4 linked regions of the Homo sapiens genome follow. The protein of the gene in region 1 purifies or fractionates together with the protein of each later gene. This does not show direct contact. Each region holds a gene or a part of one and is shown in the gene's direction. Other genes may lie near its edges. The genes, in order: ZNF689, ZBTB40, MTCL2 and ANKS3.

The links.
Region 2: the proteins of ZNF689 (region 1) and ZBTB40 purify together in Homo sapiens (co-immunoprecipitation; 2 studies listed by BioGRID and IntAct, with this or other methods). This does not show direct contact.
Region 3: the proteins of ZNF689 (region 1) and MTCL2 purify together in Homo sapiens (affinity purification with mass spectrometry; one large-scale study listed by BioGRID and IntAct). This does not show direct contact.
Region 4: the proteins of ZNF689 (region 1) and ANKS3 purify together in Homo sapiens (affinity purification with mass spectrometry; one large-scale study listed by BioGRID and IntAct). This does not show direct contact.

The regions. Positions count from the first base shown.
Region 1 is NC_000016.10:30,606,862-30,612,721, reverse strand, and holds the start of ZNF689 (zinc finger protein 689), read left to right. Parts: upstream 1-2,332; 5' UTR 2,333-2,680; coding exon 2,681-2,885; intron 2,886-2,893; exon of another isoform or gene 2,894-2,980; intron 2,981-3,083; coding exon 3,084-3,197; intron 3,198-5,860. UniProt on the Homo sapiens protein: May be involved in transcriptional regulation.
Region 2 is NC_000001.11:22,489,015-22,494,203, forward strand, and holds part of ZBTB40 (zinc finger and BTB domain-containing protein 40), read left to right. Parts: intron 1-865; 5' UTR 866-934; coding exon 935-1,631; intron 1,632-2,385; coding exon 2,386-2,519; intron 2,520-5,189. UniProt on the Homo sapiens protein: May be involved in transcriptional regulation.
Region 3 is NC_000020.11:36,779,118-36,784,102, reverse strand, and holds part of MTCL2 (microtubule cross-linking factor 2), read left to right. Parts: 3' UTR 1-4,985. UniProt on the Homo sapiens protein: Microtubule-associated factor that enables integration of the centrosomal and Golgi-associated microtubules on the Golgi membrane, supporting directional migration. Preferentially acts on the perinuclear microtubules accumulated around the Golgi.
Region 4 is NC_000016.10:4,695,651-4,700,839, reverse strand, and holds the end of ANKS3 (ankyrin repeat and SAM domain-containing protein 3), read left to right. Parts: intron 1-1,663; coding exon 1,664-1,788; intron 1,789-1,898; coding exon 1,899-2,040; intron 2,041-2,240; coding exon 2,241-2,413; intron 2,414-2,777; coding exon 2,778-2,863; intron 2,864-3,423; coding exon 3,424-3,507; intron 3,508-3,735; coding exon 3,736-3,812; 3' UTR 3,813-3,823; intron 3,824-3,943; 3' UTR 3,944-4,329; downstream 4,330-5,189. UniProt on the Homo sapiens protein: May be involved in vasopressin signaling in the kidney.

The DNA.
Region 1 (5,860 bases):
AGACCAGCCTGGCCAAGATGGTGAAATCCCGTCTCTACTAAAAATACAAAAATTAGCCGAGCAAAGTGGCGGGTGCCTGTAATCTCAGCTACTCGGGAGGCTGAGGCAGGAGAATCACTTGAACCCGGGAGGCCAAGGTTGCAGTGAGCCGAGTTTGCACCACTGCACTCTAGCCTGGGCAACAGAGCAAGACTCCGTCTAAAAAAAAAAAAAAAAAGGGCTGGGCACAGTGGCTCACGCCTGTAATCCCAGCACTTTGGGAGGCTGAGACGGGTGGATCACGAGGTCAGGAGATCAAGACCATCCTGGCTAACATGGTGAAACCCCGTCTCTACTAAAAATACAAAAAATTAGCTGGGCGTGGTGGCGGGCGCCTGTAGTCCCAGCTACCCGGGAGGCTGAGGCAGGAGAATGGCGTGAGCCCGGGAGGCGGAGCTTGCAGTGAGCCGAGATGGCGCCACTGCCCTCCAGCCTGGGTGACAGAGCGAGACTCCGTCTCAAAAAAAAAAAAAAAAAAAAAATGTGGAGGCTAATGGGGTGGGTGCTGGCTTGTTCCATCAGCAATTTTCAGTTCAGTGCCTTTCACATACATGCTTGTATCATTCTGTTATGATTCATTGTGAATTTATATGCTTTACTAGACTGTAAGCTCCATTCAAAGCATGGCCTATGACTTATTTATGTACGCTCTCCCAATTGCCTAGCACTATGCTTTGTACGTTGAACAAATGTCACGTGAAAATAATGTAGGGAGATTATGCAGAATATTGAACTTGAGAAGAAAACAAGAGCTCAGGTGGATTCCTGGTTTAGCAAGCAAATTAGGATACTGTGAAGGAAGGATGCCTATCAGTGGTATGAATAAAGGCTCTGTCTGCCCCAGGTTTAAATCTTTATTCCCCACTCCTTACTAGCAGTATGGCCCTGGAAACTCATGGAATCCCTCTGAGATCGTTTCTTCATTAGTAGAACCAGGATGATAACCATTGGTTCACAAAATGCTAGTAAAGAATTAATAACGGGCTGGGTGTGGTGGCTCACTCCTGTAATCCCAGCACTTTGGGAGACCGAGGTGGGCGGATTGCTTGAGCTCAGGAGTTCGAGACCAGCCTGGGAAACATGGCGAAACACCGTCTCTACCAAAAATACAAAAAATTAGCAGAGCACTGTGGGTGCATGCCTTCACTCCAGCCTGGGCAACGGAATGAGACCCAGTCTCAAAAAAAAAAAGCGAATAACTAATGGCTCCGGTGCTGTGGCTTATGCCAGTAATCCCAGCCCTTTGGGAGGACGAGGCAGGAGGATCACTTAGCCTAAGGGTTCGAGACCAGCCTGGGCAACACAGGGAAACCCTGACTCAACAAATAACATAAAAAATTAGCCAGGCGTGGTAGTGCACACCAGTAGTCCCAGTTACTCTGAAGGCTGAGGCAGGACGATTGCTTGAGCCCAGGAGTTAGAGGCTGCAGTGAGCTGAGATTGCACTACTGCATTCCATCCCGCCCGGGTAACAGAGTGAGACCCTGTCTCAAAAAAATAAAAATAAGGCCGGGCATAGTGGCTCACGCCTGTAATCCTAGCACTTCGTGGGGCCGAGGTGGGTGAATCACTTGAGGTCAGAAGTTCGAGACCAGCCTGGCTAACATGGTGAAACCCCATCTCTGCTAATAAATATGAATATTAGTCAGGAGTGGTGGCACGCGCCTGTAATCTCACTTACTCGGGAGGCTGAGGCAGGAGAATCGCTTGAACGTGGGAGGTGGAAGCTGCAGTGAGCCGAGATTTCGCCACTGCACTCCAGCCTGGGCGACAGAGCACGACTCTGTCTCAAAAATAAATAAATAAAATAAAAATAAAAAATAATAAAGATGAAATATGTAATATGCTGGGCATGGCGCCTGCCCCCAGGAAATGCTAACCATAATTCCCTCCCCTAAAGGGCAAACAAAGAAGATAACCATTCTCCAAAGTCAAGGATGCTCTGAGAACACCAGTAAAAGGAACTCAGGATAATCTCAGCTCTAACTCGGCCAGAGTGGCTCCATCGCTCAAATCGTTCCCTCCTTCAGTGATTGGCTGAGCCTGCCAGAGTCGAACAGCGGAAAGCAGCCCCGGGGCCTCTTGCTGCCCCCAGGTCGGTGCAAGTCGCTTCACAACTCCTTGTAGTCGCCTGATCCTAGCAGTCCAGCTTCCTGCCCTTATGCAGCTCTTGGCTTCGTTCAAACGGACCGCCTTTGCTAGCACCCAATCAGAACGCTCGATCTTCGGCTCTCGTCCAATGAACGCGCGTATTGGGGAGGGGAAAAAAGACGGCGTGAAGCCCAATCGCAGCGCCATTACACTTGAGGGCAAAGAGGTTAGGAAGCCGGCATGGCGCTCCGGTCAATAAAATCGATAGCTGGAAGCTGCCTGTGTTCCAGGCAAAGGCGGTGCGGTAGCAGCGCCGCCATTTTCCCCGAAGGCATCTTCCGGTGCCTTTCACCCAAGTTCGGGCAGGAGTTTCCTGAATAACAGCAAAAGGTTTCCGTTAGCCCCGCGGGCGACCAATTCCGATTCCCTCCGGGCCTCCCCGGCCACGCTCAGCCCTGGTCCGGCAGGGGCTCCTCGATCCCAGGGGCCGCCAGCGCCCGAGGGCCGAGGCCTGGACACGGAAGGCCGTGGCGCCGGCTTCTCGGGTCCCATGGCGCCACCTTCGGCTCCGCTCCCTGCGCAGGGACCAGGAAAGGCCAGACCCAGTCGGAAAAGGGGCAGGAGGCCGAGGGCTCTGAAGTTCGTGGACGTGGCCGTGTACTTCTCCCCGGAGGAGTGGGGCTGCCTGCGGCCCGCGCAGAGGGCCCTGTACCGGGACGTGATGCGGGAGACCTACGGTCACCTGGGCGCGCTCGGTGAGGCCGGCCCCATCCGCTGCCGCGGGGCGCGAAGGGATGCAGGAGCCGGAGAGGGTGTAGGCAGGGAGGCCACGGTCCTGGCAGGCGACCAGGTTGTCAGGGGAGGTGGGCAGGGGCTTAGCAGGAGGTGCCGTCGGGGAGATACTACTCGGCGTGATCTAGGAGCTGGCCTTCTGATTTGTTCTCTTTCCCCAGGGTGCGCAGGTCCCAAACCAGCCCTCATCTCCTGGTTGGAACGAAACACCGATGACTGGGAACCGGCTGCTCTAGATCCGCAGGAGTACCCGAGAGGGCTAACAGTCCAGAGAAGTGAGTGCTAAATAACCACGCAGAGCCTGCAGCCCTCCTATAACGTTCTACCTCTAACGGCTCTGTCCAGAGTTTTGGTTGGGCTAGGGGTGGGTGCCGCGTATTTAGTATATTCATCTTCCCAGCCTCTTGTGTCTGGTGGTGTGGGGCCGGTCCACCACACAGAGATTCCTATGTCAGTCTGCAAGCTGCAGTTTTCCACTGTGTGAATGAATCAGTGGGCTTATTCTTCGTCTTTTTTTTTTTTTTTTTTTTTTGTAGAAACATTGTCTTGCTCAGTTCGGTCTTGAACTTCTGGCCTCAAGCGATCCTCCTGCCTTGGCCTCCCAAAATGCAGGGGTTACTGGCGTGAGCCATTGCAGCCAGCCAGAATCAGTGAGCTTTTAACAGGTGCTACCCTCTGCCTCCTTTCCAGGATCTCTGCCTCTAGCCACCTTTGAGTTGGACCAAAGAGATCCTAAACTTCTCAGAGTTTTCTGGGTTTTGGTTGAAGGGAGCTCATGGGGAACAGCTGCCTGGGATGCAGGGGCCTCTTTCTGCTCTTACGGCAGGATGACCCTTATCAGCGAAGGACATACTGCAATCTCCTCAGAATCCAACAAGGCTCTGCTTAACCCCATTCAGGTAGAAGGGTCCCAGATCCACCCATAGTAGAAGATGGAGCTGTCTGGGCTGGAATTTCAGAGCCAGATTCTTCAAGACCAGGGATAGCTGTCCAAGATTCAGATCTGACCATGATATTTCCTTGCTTAAAACTTTTCAGTTAATTTTTGCCAAGGTTGTTAAATGGCCATTGGTTATATCTAAATCACTTGGGGAACTTGGTAAAAACGCAGGTTCCAGGACCCCATCCCAGAGCTATTCATTCACTCGTGTGAATGTTTAGGAACTTCCATTTTTTAAATAGCCTCAGCTGATTCAGATGTGCATCTAGGTTTGAAAACCGGCCGGCTGGTGGCTCATGCCTGTAATCCCAGCACTTTGGGAGGCCGAGGTGGGTAGATCACTTGAGGTCCGGAGTTCAAGACCAGCCTGACCAACATCGTGAAACCCCGTCTCTACTAAAAAAATACAAAAATTAGCCGGGCACTATGGTGGGCGCCTGTAATTCCAGCTACTCAGGAGGCTGAGGCAGGGAGAATTGCTTGATCCTGGGAGGTGGAAGTTACAGTGAGCCGAGATCATGCCAGTGTACTCCAGCCTGGGTGCCACAGTGAGACTCCATCTTGGGGGAAAAAAAAAAAGAAAAGAAAACCATTGGGTAAAATACAGTCCAAGGTCTTTAACAATGCTAACAGCAGTGGTTCTCAAAGCGTGGTCTCAGACCAGAAGCAGCATTATTTGGAAACTTGTTAGAAATGCACATTCTTGGACCCTACCCCAGACCTGCTGAATCCAAAGCGGGCACTAGGGCCTGGCATTCTGTTTCAGTAAATCCTCCCAATGATTCTGATCACAGTGGAGTTTGAGAACCATTGGCTTAGAGGGCCTTTTGACCCAGTCACTGCTAGCTCATACCTCATAGGTTTCCATATCTTGCCTTACACTCTTTTGTGTGTGTGTGAGACGGAGTCTTGCTCTGTTGCCCAGGCAGGAGTGCAGTGGCACGATCTCAGCTCACTGTAACCTCTTGCTCCCGGTTTCAAGCAATTCTCCTGTCTCAGCCTCTGGAGTAGGTGGGACTACAGGTGCCCACGATCACACCCGGCTAATTTTTAGTAGAGACAGGGTTTCTCCATATTGGTCAAGCTGGTCTCGAACTCCTGACCTCAGGTGATCCGCCTGCCTTGGCCTTCCAAAGTGCTGGGATTGCAGGTGTAAGCCACCGCGCCCAGCCTGTCTTGCTTTTACACTTTGTGTCTAAGAAGATCTTAGGGCCTGTGCACACTGTACACTGAGCCTTGGGACTTATGTTTCTTTTCTTTTTTTTTTTTGAGACGGAGTTTTGCTCTTCCACCCAGGCTGGAGTGTAGTAGTGCAATCTTGGCTCACTGCAACCTTTGCCTTCCGGTTTCAAGTAATCATCTTGACTCAGTTTCCCAAGTAGCTGGGATTACAGGCGCCCGCCAGCATGCACGGCTAATTTTTGTATTTTTAGTAGAGACGGGGTTTCACCATGTTGGCCAGGCTGGTCTCGAACTCCTGACCTCACAGTCCGCCCACCTTGGCCTCCCAAAGTGCTGGGATTATAGGAATGAGCCACTGCGCTTGGCTGGGACTTACGTTTCTAACACTGCATAATTTTAATTCTTTTTTTTTTTTTTTTTTTTTTTTTTGAGATGGAGTCTCACTCTGTCATGCAGGCTGGAGTGCAATGGCGTGATCTTGGCTCACTGCAACCTCCGCCTCCCAGGATCAAGTGATTCTCCCACCTCAGCCTCTGGGTAGCTGGGATTATAGGCACCTGCTATTGTGCCCAGCTAATTTTTATATTTTTGTAGAGACGGGGTTTCACCATGTTGGCCAGGCTGGTCTTGAACTCCTGACCTCAGGTGATCCGCCTGCCTCAGCCTCCTAAAGTGCTAGGATTACAGACATGAGCCACCACGCCCAGCCACATTTTTTAAAGAATCAGCTAAGTCAAATAAACCATCCACAATGGAATTCTGTGTAGCTGTAAAATAGAAAAAAGATTTGCTGACATAAAATGATCTTTAGAATAT
Region 2 (5,189 bases), on another chromosome or scaffold:
GACTTGGTTTTAGTCTGAAGAACTAGAAGGACAGAATTGCTGTGAGGTGGGAAAGTGGCAGGAGAGTTTTGGATATGTTACGTTTCAGAAACCAGGTTCCAGTTGGAGATGTTGAATAGGTAGTTGGAGGTCTACATCAGGAGTTCAGAGGAACAGGCTGAGCCAGAGACATAAATCTGAAAGCTGTCAGCATTTAGATGATATTTCAAAGCTATGGAATCAGAAGAGAGGGAAGGTAAGAGGCGGGATGACTGGGTCCTCGAGCACTCCAAGCTTTAAAGGCTGCGCTGATGCAGAGGACTCAACCAAGGAGACTGGGAAGGCATGGCTAGTGAGTGAGAAGGAGAACCAAGTGAAAAATGTATTTTCAGAGGAAGAGAATGATGACCTCCGTCCCTTGTTAGGGCTAGACTGAATAAGCCAAGGACATTGTATTGTAAGTCTCCGTCTACATATTTATCTCCTCTAGGTGGCTGAGAGCTTTTTGGGAGCAGGAATGGTAGTGTAGTTAGAGCTTCGAAGTCAGTGAGATGGCTGTTTTTCCTTAGGGTGATTCTCTTGGTCCTTCAAAGCTCCAATCTCATCTGTAAAATGGGGAGGAAATAATATCTTTTCCACTGAATCGTTGTGAGAATCAAATGAGACCGTCCATACAAAGCATTATGCACAGTCTCTTTCATATATTTAAACACATAATGATAATGATCATTACTGATTTAGTATACCTGGCATACTGTCCCTTCCTATTAAGCAATATTTGTTGGATGAATGAGTGAAATGCCTTTCTGTTCATTTAGCGTTTCATTCAAGGCCTTTCCCTATGGTTTTTTGAAGTTTTAACCTGGTATTTTGTGGGTTTCTCTAGGGCCTGTCCTCCCAAAGCCAACTCTAAGGAGAGGAGAGGAAGAGCAGTTCTTGGGGCAGAGTTGACGCAATGGAGCTCCCCAACTACAGCCGGCAGCTGCTGCAGCAGCTGTACACTCTGTGCAAGGAGCAGCAGTTCTGTGATTGCACCATCTCCATTGGTACCATTTACTTCAGGGCTCACAAGCTTGTCCTGGCTGCTGCCAGCCTCCTGTTCAAAACCCTGCTGGATAACACAGATACCATCTCCATCGATGCATCTGTGGTGAGCCCCGAGGAGTTTGCGCTCTTGTTGGAAATGATGTACACGGGCAAACTACCTGTGGGCAAGCACAACTTCTCCAAAATCATCTCCTTAGCAGACAGTCTACAGATGTTTGATGTAGCTGTTAGCTGCAAAAATCTTCTGACCAGCCTTGTAAACTGCTCGGTTCAGGGTCAGGTGGTAAGGGATGTCTCTGCGCCATCCTCAGAGACATTCAGAAAGGAACCAGAGAAGCCTCAAGTAGAAATCCTTTCATCTGAAGGTGCTGGAGAGCCTCATTCTTCCCCAGAGCTTGCTGCCACTCCAGGGGGCCCTGTGAAAGCTGAGACTGAGGAAGCAGCCCATTCAGTTTCACAAGAGATGAGTGTGAATTCTCCCACAGCCCAGGAGAGCCAGAGGAATGCAGAAACCCCAGCGGAGACTCCTACTACAGCTGAAGCTTGTTCCCCCTCCCCTGCTGTGCAAACCTTTAGTGAGGCAAAGAAGACAAGCACAGAACCAGGTAACAGTCATTGTTTTATATTCCATCCTTCTGTTTTCAATGATCTTTATCAGTTTTAATGTTTGATTAATAAATTTATCAAAGACCACTGTTAGGTAGAAAACCAAAATTCAGTGCAGTACCGTACTGGGCCATTCTTTTAAAAGTGTCTGTGTTTTTGAACATTGAAAGTCCAAACATGAACTACAGAGCAGAAAAGCAGTATTGGAATAATGACGTACCATTTCGATAATTATCTGTTTCGTTTTGTTTTGTTTTGTTTTCTCTCGAGACGGAGTCTTGTTCTGTTGCCCAGGCTGAAGTGCAATGGCATGATCTCAGCTCACTGCAACCTCCGCCTCCTGGGTTCAAGCAATTCTCCTGCCTCAGCCTCCTGAGTAGCTGGGATTACAGGCATGTGCCACCACGCCCAGCTAATTTTTTGTATTTTTAGTGGAGATGGGATTTCACCATGTTGGCCAGGCTGGTCTCGAATTCCTGACCTCATGATCCACCCGCCTCAGCCTCCCAAAGTGCTGGGATTACAGGCGTGAGCCACCGTGCCCTGCTGATTATCTGCTATTTTAACCAGGCTGAGGACAGCACAAAGGAGGAAGCTGTGAGAGATACTGTTGTCTGTTATTCATAACTGATGTGCTAGACAGAGATCAGTTAAGTGCAGTATATGACCTGAAGGTGCTCAGACAGCTTAAACTTGTAAAAATTTATTTCAAGTAATGAATTTCTGATTTGTTTTATTTTGTTCTACATTTAGGATGTGAAAGGAAACACTACCAGCTGAATTTTCTTCTAGAAAATGAAGGTGTCTTCTCAGATGCACTCATGGTTACCCAGGATGTTTTAAAAAAACTAGAAATGTGTTCAGAAATTAAAGGTCCACAGAAGGAGGTAGGCACCTCTGACTTTTGTACTTGTTTGCTAGTTTAGTGTTCTCAGGATACCTTACTAACTTTTTATATGGGGCAGAAATAGCCCAGGGTTTCAATGTTTTGAAACTTTAATTTTTTTTTTTTTTTGGACATTTATTCCCTAAAGGGCAGTCTTGCAAAAGTACTTAGGCAGGATACTTTCAAAATGACATTACATCTTGATCACCAGGAGAATCCTAGCTTCTAACCAGTTTTGATCCAGAATACTTAACTGATCATACCATTTACTCCTGATTAATCACAGATAAGATTAAGAAGGTAGCCATGTATAACCTCAAACCTGAGACTTAAACCATTAAAATTAAAACAAAACAACAGATACTCAAAACATGAACAAAAAGGACTTTATATAAACTTATAAATTATTGGTAAAATGCATCTAATATTTAGGAATAACAGTGGCCATTTTCAGACATAAAAACAGTAATAGTAAACATTCAACGAACACTTCCTGTATTAAGCTTGGCATATGTGTTACCGCATTTAATTTTCACAAAAATCATCAGTGTGAGTATTATTGTTAAGTCCTGTTTTATGCATGAGAAAACTGTCTCAAAGAGGTGGTGTAATTTGGCGAAGGTCACAGAGCTCATATGACCCTGAGCCAGAATTGAAACCTCAGCATTCTAACTTTAGAGCTGCTCCCTTACACACTGAGTTTATACTGCCTCCCAACAGGGTAAAAGTGATGCATATATATATAAGTGCTTAGGAATCGCCTGACAGGAAACTGCCAAATGGCTATCATGCTTTCTTAGCTGACCTCTTTTTTTAAGTAACTCAGTTGAGACGCATTTCCACCTGTGTGATCTCTCAATACTTGATTCTTCACACCTGACCCTGCAGGATTCGACTCCACAACCAATTTAGAATTCCATTTATTTCCCTTTTCTCCCAGCCCTGCTTCCCCTTTCTGAGAGGCTGCTGGCAGAGTGAGAGGGCGCTGCCCCGGCAGGCTTGCTCCTCTGATTGGTAGGGGGTAGTGTGGGCCGATCCTCCCATGTTGCTATAGGCAATTTTGTATTAGTCCAAGTAATACATGCCTTCTAATAATTAAATGTTTTCCTGATTCATAGCAACTTTTTTAAAAAACAAATTCAAGGTCTAGTATTTATTTTAGCTGTGTTAACTGACAGTCGACTATACATTGTTTTCTTGGGAGACAAGCTATTTACAAGGCTAGGCTAACCCTGATGACTCTCTTTGGGAGGTTTCAAGTCATAAATCCTTGGTACTCTTTGTACTGATTATGCTGAAGGACATTATGGTTTTATATTTTTGCACTTGCGTGTTCTCTTAACTGTTCAATCCATCATTTTTGTCATTAGTTTGTTACCTTGATAGCTTCTAAACACACCTCTTCATTTTCTCTTAAAGCTTCCTCTCCACTTAACTTTGGCTACAGAGGAGTAACGTTATTCCTTAGATCAGCAATACTCAAGTTATTAGTGTCACCTTTATACTTAGTTGAACTGTGTCTTATGCATTTTTTTTAACATTGGTACCTAAAAGTATGTGGCATGTAACAGGTGATGAAGAAATGTCTGTTATACATGCATTCGTTCAACATTTCTTTTTTTCCATTTCTTGTTCTAATCTTTTGATGGCAATATCATTAATATACTTCAAAAGAACACTGATTTGCTGTTGGTGATCATTATAGGCTTATGTTATTTCTTCCTCAGTTTTAGAGGTCAGAGTAGGAGCTCTGCAAATCACTTGGTGGCTGTTTTTAAAGCCAATTCTGTTACAGTCCATAACCTTTGAACTTCAGAAAGAAAAAGGGAACAGATACTTTAAGAATATAAGATTAAATAGAGAGTTAGGGAGATGCTGCTTTGTACTTCGGCCTCTACTTCTCTCTCTCTCTGTCTCTCTCTCATACTTTGTTTCAGACAGCCTTGTTGAGCTATGACTGACATGCAGTAACCTGTAGCTAGGTATGGTGTACAGTGTGATTAGTTTTGGTATATGCCCTGAAACCATCACCACAGTTAAGATGGTAAACATCTCCATCACCCCCAAAAGTTTCTTCTTGTCCCTGTGTACTACCCCTCTCTCCTGCCCCTTCCACTTACCCATGCCCTGGGTAACCACTGGTCTGCTTTCGGTCACTGTACGTAAGTTTGTATTTTCTAGAGTATTGTATAAATGGAGTCATATGGTGTGTATTTTTTGTCTGGCTTTCATTGAGCGTAAGTATCTTGAGATTCACCCATGTTTTTTTTTTTTTTTCCTTTTTTCTTTTTCTGTGAATTCTACAGAGGTACGCCCCTAGTGTTGTGTGTTCATTCCTTCTTATTGCTGAGTTGTATGCATTGTGTGGATATACAATTCATTTATCCACCTCTACTATTTACTAGCATTGTGACTTTAGGCAGCTTCATCTTTATAAGCCTCAGTGTCCTCGTTTGTAAAAAGGGGATACTATCACCTACATCATGGGGTCATTGTGAATTAAGATTATTTATATAAAACTCATAGTAAAATGCCAGGCACTCAGTAGGAGGTCAGTAGGTAACAACTGCTATTGTTTGTTTTTACATTAACTCAGTATTTTTAGACCTAACAGACCTTGAAACCCCCTTTTCACTGAATGTCTTATAATATCCTGGTGCCATGGCCATTT
Region 3 (4,985 bases), on another chromosome or scaffold:
AAATCCCCGTGGGACCTGAGCCCCAAGACCTACGGACCACTCAGCCTTACCATCGTACCGTCCAGGATTGTCCTTGCCATCTTTGTTGTCTCAGCCAGACCTTGGTTTTCAGTAAAGCCCCAGTTTCTACTTCCTGCATGCCACTGTGCAAGGCCACTCATCACTGTTCCTGCAGAAGCCTCTGGACGTGGGGCTGGATGGGGTTGAAAATGTTACATGTAAATATTGGTTTGGTTCGGTTTTTAGCATTTTACTTGGTAACTGGTTGTTTTCTTTTTTGGGGTGGGGGGATTGGTTTGTAAAAATTCTCTACTCTTTTGGAATGTGATTTCTAAGTTTGTTGGTTTCTTCAAATGCCTTTTAAGTCTTGGTAACATTCCCAAAGCAGAAAACTGCCTGACCCACAGTGGGGATTCCCTGGAGAATTGGGGTCCCAAGAAGGAATGCTGCCCTTCTCGAACCCGTTCTCCCCCTTCCTCCTGCCTCTCTGCCTTTTACTGCTATTCCCTTCTTCTCCTCCTTTATCCTTCTTTCTGTTTTCCCCATCTCCACTCTCTCTTCAACCAAAGTCCCAAGGAACCCTCGGGGCTCAATCCCCCATAGACCACTTGGCTTGGGTCCATGGGGTTGGCATCAGTTGGTTGGCGGAAATGGGGGACCAGTTGGCATGATGGCCCTAAACTGGGAAACCTCATGTTTCTTATGTCTCACCTCTTTCCAGAGCCAAATCAGCCCCTTTTGGAATGATGACTTCATTGGAATGCAAATCAAGTCATTTTGGTGCATCAGTGGCTCTTAGGCCTGCACACACGAGACATCAGAATCCAATCCTCTGACCCTGTGCCAGCCCTTTCCCCCAGTTTATTTCCCACCAAAGGCTGACCTCTAAGAGGTCTTGCTTTCTATGAACTCAAGATGGGTCCCACCTCTAGGTGTCCCCAGGTGCACTCTTCTACCGGTTGGCTTCCGATGTGACAAGGCCAAGGGCCCAAAGACTTGACCCTCTTACACCCTTGCTGACATGGTTCCATCATGTCCACCCGCATGCACTTTTATGGTTTCATCACCCAGCCTCTTCTCCTCTGGCCCACCCAGCGTCCAGGCTCTTTCTCCCTCTCCCCTCCTATCTAGAATGTCCCCTGCTTCTAGCCTCACCAGACCCCCCAAGCTCCCACTACTTCTTCCATAATAATAGTAATAACAATGGTTATCATCATCCCCTGCACATCCCGCCTAAAGCACTTTACTATATAGAAAACGTTTCCCCTGGCCGGGCATGGTGGCTCACGCCTGAAATCCCAGCTCTTTGGGAGGCTGAGGCGAGCGGATCAGTTGAGGTCAGGAGTTCAACGCCAGCCTGGCCAACGTGGTGAATCCCTGTCTGTACTAAAAGTACAAAAAATTAGCTGAGCATGGTGGTGCGTGCCTGTAATCCCAGCTACTCGGGAGGCTGAGGTGGGAGAATCGCTTGAGCCCAGGAGGCGGAGGTTGCAGGAGCAGAGATTGCGCCACTGCACTCCAGCCTGGATGACAGAGTGAGACCCAATCTCAAAAAAGAAATCGTTTCCCACCCCACATCTCCTTCAGACCTCTCAGGGACAACTCTGGGAGGCAGCCTTGGCAGGACATGGGTTAGTGCGCCCATTTTGCTGTGAGGAAACTGAGGTACAGGTCTCATCCCAGAGCATGAGAAGTCACTGAGTTTAGATGAGAACTTGGGTCCAACTCTGTCCTGTTTGCTGTGCAAATCCGCTGCCCTGCTGGGGGCTTTTGGTGGGTCCAGAATACCCAGAATATGCTGCTGGCCAACCCAGGCATAAAACAAGTCCATTCTAGATCACTGAGCCTTGTGTATTCCAGAGGGTGATCTGAGGTCCCCATTCAGCAGAATTCTCTGAGGGCATGTTCAGAATGTAGATTCCTGGGCCCCACCTTGAATTTGCATGTTTAACAAACTCTCCTGGGGTTGAGGGGTGGGTGCAGTGGTCACACCTGTAATCCCAGCACTTTGGGAGGCTGAGGCGGGTGGATCACTTGAGCTCAGGAGTTCGAGCCTGGCCAATATGGTGAAACCCTGTCTCTACTAAAAATGCAAAAATTAGCCAGGTGTGGTGGCACATGCCTGTAATCCCAGCTACTTGGGAGGCTGAGGCAGGAGAATCACTTGAACCTGGTGGGGAGCAGCGGTTGCAGTGAGCCGAGATTGTGCCATTGCGCTCTAGCCTGGGCAACGGAATGAGACTTGTCTCAAAAAAAATAAAAAATAAAACCAGCCCTCCCCGGGGGATCTTAGGCACTATTGGCCACACCATTGGTGTTCGTGGCCCTGATTATTAGGCTATCTTTCTTTTTTTAAGTTTTTTTAGATTTATTTTTTATTTTATTTATTTATTTATTTATTATTTATTATTATTATTTTTAGAGACAGGGGGTCTCCCTATGTTGCCCAGGCTGGTTTCAAACTCCTGGGCTCAAGTGATCTGCCCTCCTCAGCCTCCCAAAGTGCTGGGGTTACAGGCAGGCATCAGCCACCGTGCCAGGTCATCTTCCTTTTTCTTTTTTTTTTGGAGACAGAGTCTTGCTCTGTCATTCAGGCTGGAGTACAGTGGCGCCATTTCAGCTCACCGCAGCCTCCACCTCCCAGGTTCAAGCAGTTCTCCTGCCTCAACCTCCCGAGTAACTGGGATTACAGGTGTGTGCCACCACACCCGACTAATTTTTTTATTTTTAGTAGAGACGGGGTTTCACCATGTTGGCCAGGCTGGTCTTGAACTCCTGACCTCAGGTGATCCACCCACCTCGGCCTCCCAAAGTACTGGGATTATAGGCGTGAGCCACGGCATCCAGCCTCATCTTTCTTTTAACCAATAAACATGATGCTGTATCTTAAAAAGAGCACTGAGCAGGGACTTAAGGGATCGAGTCCTCAACCAAACTGATTTAATTACTCAGGATTTTCAAAAAGCATCAGAGGCTATTTACAATCTTAATCATAGGGGTTCAGTAAAATAAAAATAAGAAGTAAAAAAGCAAGAGAAATTATTCTGTAAATCTAACTGGTGTAATTCCCATAATCATGCAATTAAGTTTTACTCTTGAGTTTCCTGACAGCCATTGGTAAAAAGAGAAACACATCAGGATTTATAATTTTTATCATCCAATTATGGGAAGCAAGCATGTTGGCCCCAGGAGACGAACTCTTCTACTAATTTATAGCATGTATCCTTTCATCAAGGGCCACTGAGCCAGTTGGTGAGTCAACGGGTGAACCTAAGATGCAAGGATGTTTTCCAGGTGACTATTTAAAAAAATAAATAATCCACCAACGTGATTGACCTTGGCGAGATCATGTTTCTAGTCTATACCTCAGTTTCCCCATCTGTAAAGTGAGGATAATGTCCCACCCCATGTAACTGTGGTGAGGACCAACTGCAACACTGTGCCTGCGAGTCTCCTTGGAAAAGTGTAAGGTTCTACACAAATGGAAAGTGATCTGATCACACTCAGTGTCCCCAGCCCAGCCTTTCAGTGCCCTGGCCCTGGGGTGGGGGACAATACTCTCCTCACCCCCTTCACTAGTCTTCATGAATAGCAAGGAGGCCATAACATAATTTGGTCTAAACCCCTTCCTTTTTAAAAGAATGATGGCAAAATGTGCATAACATTAAATTTACCATTTTAAAGATTTCTAAGTGTCTCGAAGTACATTTGCAATGTGTAACTGCCACCTCCAGAACTTTTTCATCATCCTAAACTGAAACTCTGTACCCACTAAACAGTAACTCCCCACTCCCCCTGTCCCCAGTCCCTGGTAACCTCTATTCTACTTTTTTTTTTTCTCTGTGGATTGGCCTATTCTAGGTATCTCTTTTAAGTAGAATCATATAGTATTTGTCCTTTTGTGTCCAGCCCCCTCATTTTTTGAGATGAGGAATCAGGCCCAGAGAAGGCAGTGGCTCACCCAAGGTCACATCGCAAACCAGAGGCAGAGCCAAGACCAGAACCCAGGTTTCCTGACTCCTAACAGGTCTTGCATCCCCAGTAGTGAATGAGACACTGCTTTGACTTTCTGTAATCTTGGTTTAGCCCCTTCCTTTCTCTGGGCTCAGTCTGCTTCCCACCACTCACCCATTCTTTCTTTATCATCTCCCTCCAAAGCCTCTTGTCCTCCTGCCTCCTCTTCTCCTTGGCTGGTTCCTGCCAGCAAATGGAGTGGCCCTGGTCCATGCCAGGTTTTCCTCTTCTGGGTCCGGAGCTCACTATAGTATTCAGCCCTCAGTCCTCCCAGGATGTTCTTCCCAGCACTGCTGCCTCGTGCGGATTTTCCCGTAACCTCAGTAACTGGCTTCTTGTCCCCCTGCTTCCTACCAGGGAAGCCTTCCTGTCCGCGTCTGTGGTTTCCCAACTCTGATATTTGCTCTCAAATGTGGTGGTGTCCTGGTTCTGTGTTTATTTATTTTGTGTTTTCTCACACACACAAAAAAAAGCCTCTTCCTCCAATGCATCAGGAGGCACCAGCCCTGCCAGCCCTTCTCACTGGGCTCACCCTGCCCCAGCAACCCCCCGGTGCCACCCTTAAGCCACACTGTCTTCTCTGTAAGCAGCCTGCCAGCAGCAGCCCCAGCACTTTGCAATGGGCGTGTGTGTGGTGGTGGGTGGGGGGGGCTTGGATCCCTCCTTTTTCCTCCCCTGCCCTGCCCAGGCCCAGATGGCCTTGACTGTAAAGCAGGTGCTGCCTGACAGGTTCTTCTCTCCCTGTCTCTGGTCATTGATCCATCTCTTTGTCCATTCAGTATCCAACCATCCTCTCCATTCTCCTCTGGACCTCACCACTCTCAGAGCTGCTTGTCCTGGCAGAATCTACAGTTCACCCCAACTCTATGCCTTACCCCTCCCAACCCAACAGCATTTGCAGTTTGCAAAATATACAGACCCAAGTCCTGAGGGGACTGAGGACATGATGCTGGGCCCAAGTCTCCTGCTCA
Region 4 (5,189 bases), about 26 Mb from region 1:
TGTTAGGCTCCACAGGCTCACAGCCGGCTCCATGGCTGGCAGCCCCGCTGCAGCGCTTCTACTCTGTTCCTCTCCACGGAAAGGACCTGTCTCCCTGCTTTCCATACTGGAGTTGGCCTCCCTGAGCCTGGGGAGAAGAAAAGCACACTTGACCTCAGAGCTGCCTGCAGGAGTCTGACAAGATGTGGTTGAAGCAGAGACAGGAACTACACACAGTGTGTGCTTGGTGATGGTTACAGCTGCCACCATCCTCCTCCTTTCTGTGGTCCCTCTGACCACACATTACCTTAGGGATCAGAGGTGTGACTCACAGCTCAGCTGTCTCACCTGTGTCTGCTGAGTTCTCCTACCCTGTGTGGGCAGAAGAGGCACGGAGAGGAGAGGCAGAGGGAAGCTCTGGTTGGTTATTTGGTTTGTTTGTTCGAGACGGAGTCTCGCACTGTCATCTGGGCTGGAGTGCAGTGGCGCGATCTCGGCTCACTGCAACCTCCTCCTCCTGGGTTCAAGCGATTCTCCTGCCTCAGCCTCCCAAGTAGCTGGGATTACAGGCACCCGCCACCATGCCCATCTAATTTTTTGTATTTTTAGTAGAGACGGGATTTCACTATGTTGGCCAGGCTGGTCTCAAATTCCTGACATCGTGATCCGCCCGCCTCGACCTCCCAAAGTGCTGGGATTACAGGCGTGAGCCACCACACCTGGCCTGGTGCCATGCCCGGCCTGGCTGGTTATTTGTTAAAGCACTGGCTTTGCTGTTCAGTAGAGCCTTGGATTTGCCGGCTTCTCCCTGCAGCCCCTGGCTCAGTGAGCAGGCACACGTCTCGGTCCCTTCAACATACGTTGAGTGGAGTCTGGTCAGGGTAGTGTCCTAAGTATGTTTCTTTCAGAAAATAGCTTGAAGAAAATGTCAGAGTAACATTTGTTTGTCCATTAAAAGCAATAAACTCTCAAAAGTAGGATTTCTGGAGTTGAAAAGTAAATGAAATGAAAATATCACTAGACGAGCTCACAGCAGAATTGAGCAGGCAGAAGAGTCAGACAACTTGTGAACACAGGTCACCTGAGATCATCTCGCTTGAGGAACAGAAAGAATGAGTAAAAAAAATTAACAGAAATCTGTGATCCCCTCAAGCACACCGACACCACCCCATACAGTGGCATTCCAGAAGGAGAGCAGAAACGATGGGTGAGAAACAGCCTGACCATCTCAGTGGATCAGAAACACGGATCTTACATCCAGGGAGCTCGGTGAACTCCAGACAGGTGAACTCGGAGAAGAGCTGCGCTTAGACAAGTGGAAATCAGAACATCCGACACTGAGACTCTAGAATTAGAGGGCAGCGCTCTCCGCCTACAAAGCATTGTCGAGATCAGCAGCTCCATGGTCCCTTCACAGAACTGAGCATGTGTGGGAGGAGGAGGCCAGTTTCTGGTGATGAACATACATTGTCCCCACGTGGCCGACCATAGTGTGAGGACTCACCTGCCTGCAACATCCTGCCCTGCCTGAGCCACCAGAGTAGGAGGGGACAGCCTGGGCGCCACACACAAGGCACTGTCTTGGTTCTGAGCCTGGGGAAGTGGTGGGGCTCCGAGTGGAGGAAAACGTCTCTGCTTCGTCGTCAGCCACTACCTCCCCCAACCTGTCCCCTGTGCCTGCCAGGACCTTGCCGCACTGCTGGAGCAGATCGGGTGTCTGAAGTACCTGCAGGTGTTTGAGGAGCAGGACGTGGACCTCCGCATCTTTCTGACCCTCACTGAGAGCGACCTGAAGGAAATTGGCATCACGTGCGTCCAGAAGGGCCGCTCTGGCCCTCAGCCCGGGGTTGGGGCAAACTCCCACTCATGTAAGCGCTCTTGGGACGCTGAGGCATATCCTGGTCACATTCCCCCCGCAGGCTGTTTGGGCCCAAGAGGAAGATGACGTCCGCCATTGCCCGCTGGCACAGCAGTGCCCGCCCACCCGGGGATGCCCTGGAGCTGGCCTACGCCGACCGGCTGGAGGCTGAGATGCAGGAGCTCGCCATCCAGCTGCACAAGGTGAGTGGCTGGGTGGGGGATGGGGGGGCAGGGTGACACCCGTGAGTTGGCTCCATCTCTGACAGAAAAGGTGGGTGCTGTGTGGAGGGGTCAGGTGGATGCAGTGGGGAGAGGGCCCCACACACAGGACAGGGCCGTGGCCAAGGGTCTGGCTTGACCGGCCACCTCCCAGCCTCCCCGCGCCCCCCACCCCCCTGCAGCGCTGCGAGGAGGTAGAGGCCACGCGGGGCCAGGTGTGTCAGGAGCAGGAGCTGCGCGCCGTGGTGGAGAGCTGCCTGCTGGAGCAGGACCGCGCCCGCGAGGACCTCCAGGCCCGGCTGCGGGAGACGTGGGCCCTGGCCCGGGATGCTGCCCTCGTCCTGGACCAGCTGCGGTGAGTGGCTCTGAGCTGCCCTGGGCTGGGTCTCCAGTGGTCAGCCACCTGGCCCCTGGGCCCCCACACATCCTTTCCTCCTGATTTTGTAACTGAGGGGTGGATTTCAGGGTCTGGAGCCACCCCACCCCCATTTCATCAGGCCCTTCCTTCCTGCAGGCAGACCCAGGCAGGAGTTGGGTCCGGGAATCTGCACCGGTCGCCCTCCTGCTCTTTAGTGCAGCCTCATGGGGCACTGGCCCAGCCCATGAGGGCCAGCTGCAAGGACAGGGCTGAGCCCCTCCCTCCCCTAGAAGGTCTGAGGTGGGGGCTCTGCAGCGGCCAGGCCTCTGCTCTCACCAATATTTGTTTCTGTGTCTGGCAGAGCCTGTCAAGCTGAGCTGTCATCTCGAGTGAGGCAGGACCAGCCCCCTGGTGCAGCCACTCTGGGCCTAGCCGTCCCCCCAGCTGGTAAGAGCAGTGGCCTGACTCCGCACTGGGCAGAGGGGAAGGTGGGGGAGCCCTGAAGCCAGGTTTGACCCAGTGGGCTTGGCCTGGTTCTCCGGCCGGCAGCCACTCTCCCAGGTCCCTGTGTGCACATGATCCCAGAGTCCAAGGAAAAGAGGGGGCCCTGGGGACCCAAGCCCACTTCCTCACCTGTGACAGGAAAACTGCCTATCCCCCAGGGGTAGGAGGTACTCGAGAAAGGCCCTGTGCCTTGGCTGGCTGTGCTGTGCTGAGACCGCCAGTGACTTCTGTAGCCTCCAGCCAGGGCCCAGACCCGGGTCCCCACCGGCAGAGCTTTGCCTTCTCTCGGGCTGACCCGGGCCTCGTAGTGTTTGCTCAGCCTGTGGGAGGAAGGGCACAACAGGGCTTCCCTGCCTCGGCCTTGGGAGGTTGCTTAGACACTGTCAGGCGGGTAGGGAGGTTCTGATCCAAGCAGGTTCTCCTGGTTGCATGGGCTCAGAATAAAGCAGGGCCTGTGGGGACGCAGACCCCCAGCTAACTCGGTCCCTGCACCTGCACCACAGACTCCAAGGGCTGGCAAGCGTCCCTGCAGGCCATGAGCCTCCCCGAGCTCTCGGGAGCCCTGGAGGACCGTGTCCGTGAGATGGGTGAGTCTCCGGGGACCAGACGACTGAGCGCTCCTTTTGTTTCCGAGGGAGGCAAAGGGACCCCTTTCCAGGGAAAGCGGGTTTGTGTCTCTCTACCCCAAGGCTGACCTCGGGGCTGGGGCCATAACGGGTGAGGGGCAGGTCACATCCTGCAGCTGAGACCCCGGGGCAGCACCACCCAGCCCTCCTGAGCCTGGCCGGGAGAGGCTCAAGGTCATCATTCCTCAGGGCAAGCACTGTGCTTAGTGACCCAGAGCCTGGAGAAGCTGCAGGTGCTGAACGGGAAGAAGTGGCGGGAGACCTAGCCTGCGGGCCGGTGAGTGTCTGCCAGCCTGGATCCCGCGTGGTGGGAGCAGCAGGGCCTGTCTGGGCGGCTGCAGGTGTGGGTATGCACCCACCTGTCCCCCTCCCTTCTCACCGGGGCTTTTTCTTTCAGAATCTGACGTTGGGTGATTGGTCCACCCTGAAGCTGTGTGCCAGGGAGTGAGGAGGACAGTGAGCAGGTAGCTGCCATGTGCAGCCCAGGCCCAGTGGGGGCCAGAGGATCAGGCCCCGGGAGCAGCCGGCAGACAGAGGCAAGACGGGGGCTGCGGCCCTGGCTCGGCAGCTCGGGCCAGCACTGAGGCGGGACGAGGGCCTCACCCAGAACCTCGTGGTGAGGCCCAGAGTTCATGGGCTGCCCTGGCCCATACCAGGCAGGGCCCTGGGGGGAAAGTGTATCCATATACACGCACAGGTGCCAACTGAGGTGGGACCTTAGGAATGAGGACTGGGGCACCTGGAAAATGCCATTTTTTGGAAAATAAAATTTAAGAACAGCTAGTGAAGGGCTCAGTTCTGGTCACATGACATGAGGCACTGGCCAATGCAGCAACCCTGACTGCCCTGTCCTCTGCTGTTCAGGGGTGTGTCTTTTGCTCCTGGAGCCCAGACAACTCAAGATAAGGCTTTGAGAGCCAAGAACATCCCCAGCCCGCCGTAGCACAGGGCCTCCCCCGGGACATGCTGCTCTCACACCGAGCTCTGAGATGGAGCTGGGCACACTGCCTCCCTCACCGGGCCAGGCATGGGCTGTGCAAATTTTCTGACGATGCCGCTGGAGTCTTTCCAGATGTGGGGCTGTAGGAGACCACGAGGGATGGCTCTGCTGCTGTCCTTCTGCACAGTAAGCCTGCACTTCTACACCATCCCCTGGAGCTGCTTGCAGACAGTGGGGAATGGTGGGTTTGCAAAGCAAAGCAGGTCAGCCCAGGTGCAGCCAGGGCCACCAGGATCAGGAAGGGGAGCCTGCCCTGAAGGTCTCGGCCCAGACGCCCCAACCTGGCTGATGGGCACAGCATTCATGCTGGGAGTGCCCCCAGTAAACACTGGGGAACAAACGTGCCCCTGGCTGGGGCAGCTCCTCCCTCCCCCACCTAGGGCAGGGGGCCTGAGCTGGTTCCATCCAGAACCAAAACAAACACACAGGGCAGCTGAGAAACACACAGAGCAGCTGCGGAGCGACTTTATTGTCTTCTCCTTCGACAGCTTCGTTGTACATAGCTGGGCCCCCGAGGCCCTGACTGTCCCTGGGAACCAAGCCACGTGGGGTGAAGCTACTTTGAAACCTCACCCACAGTTCACACGTGGTGAAAGAGAAAATCTAGCAAAGTAAATCCAACAACAACCCAAATTAACAGTAT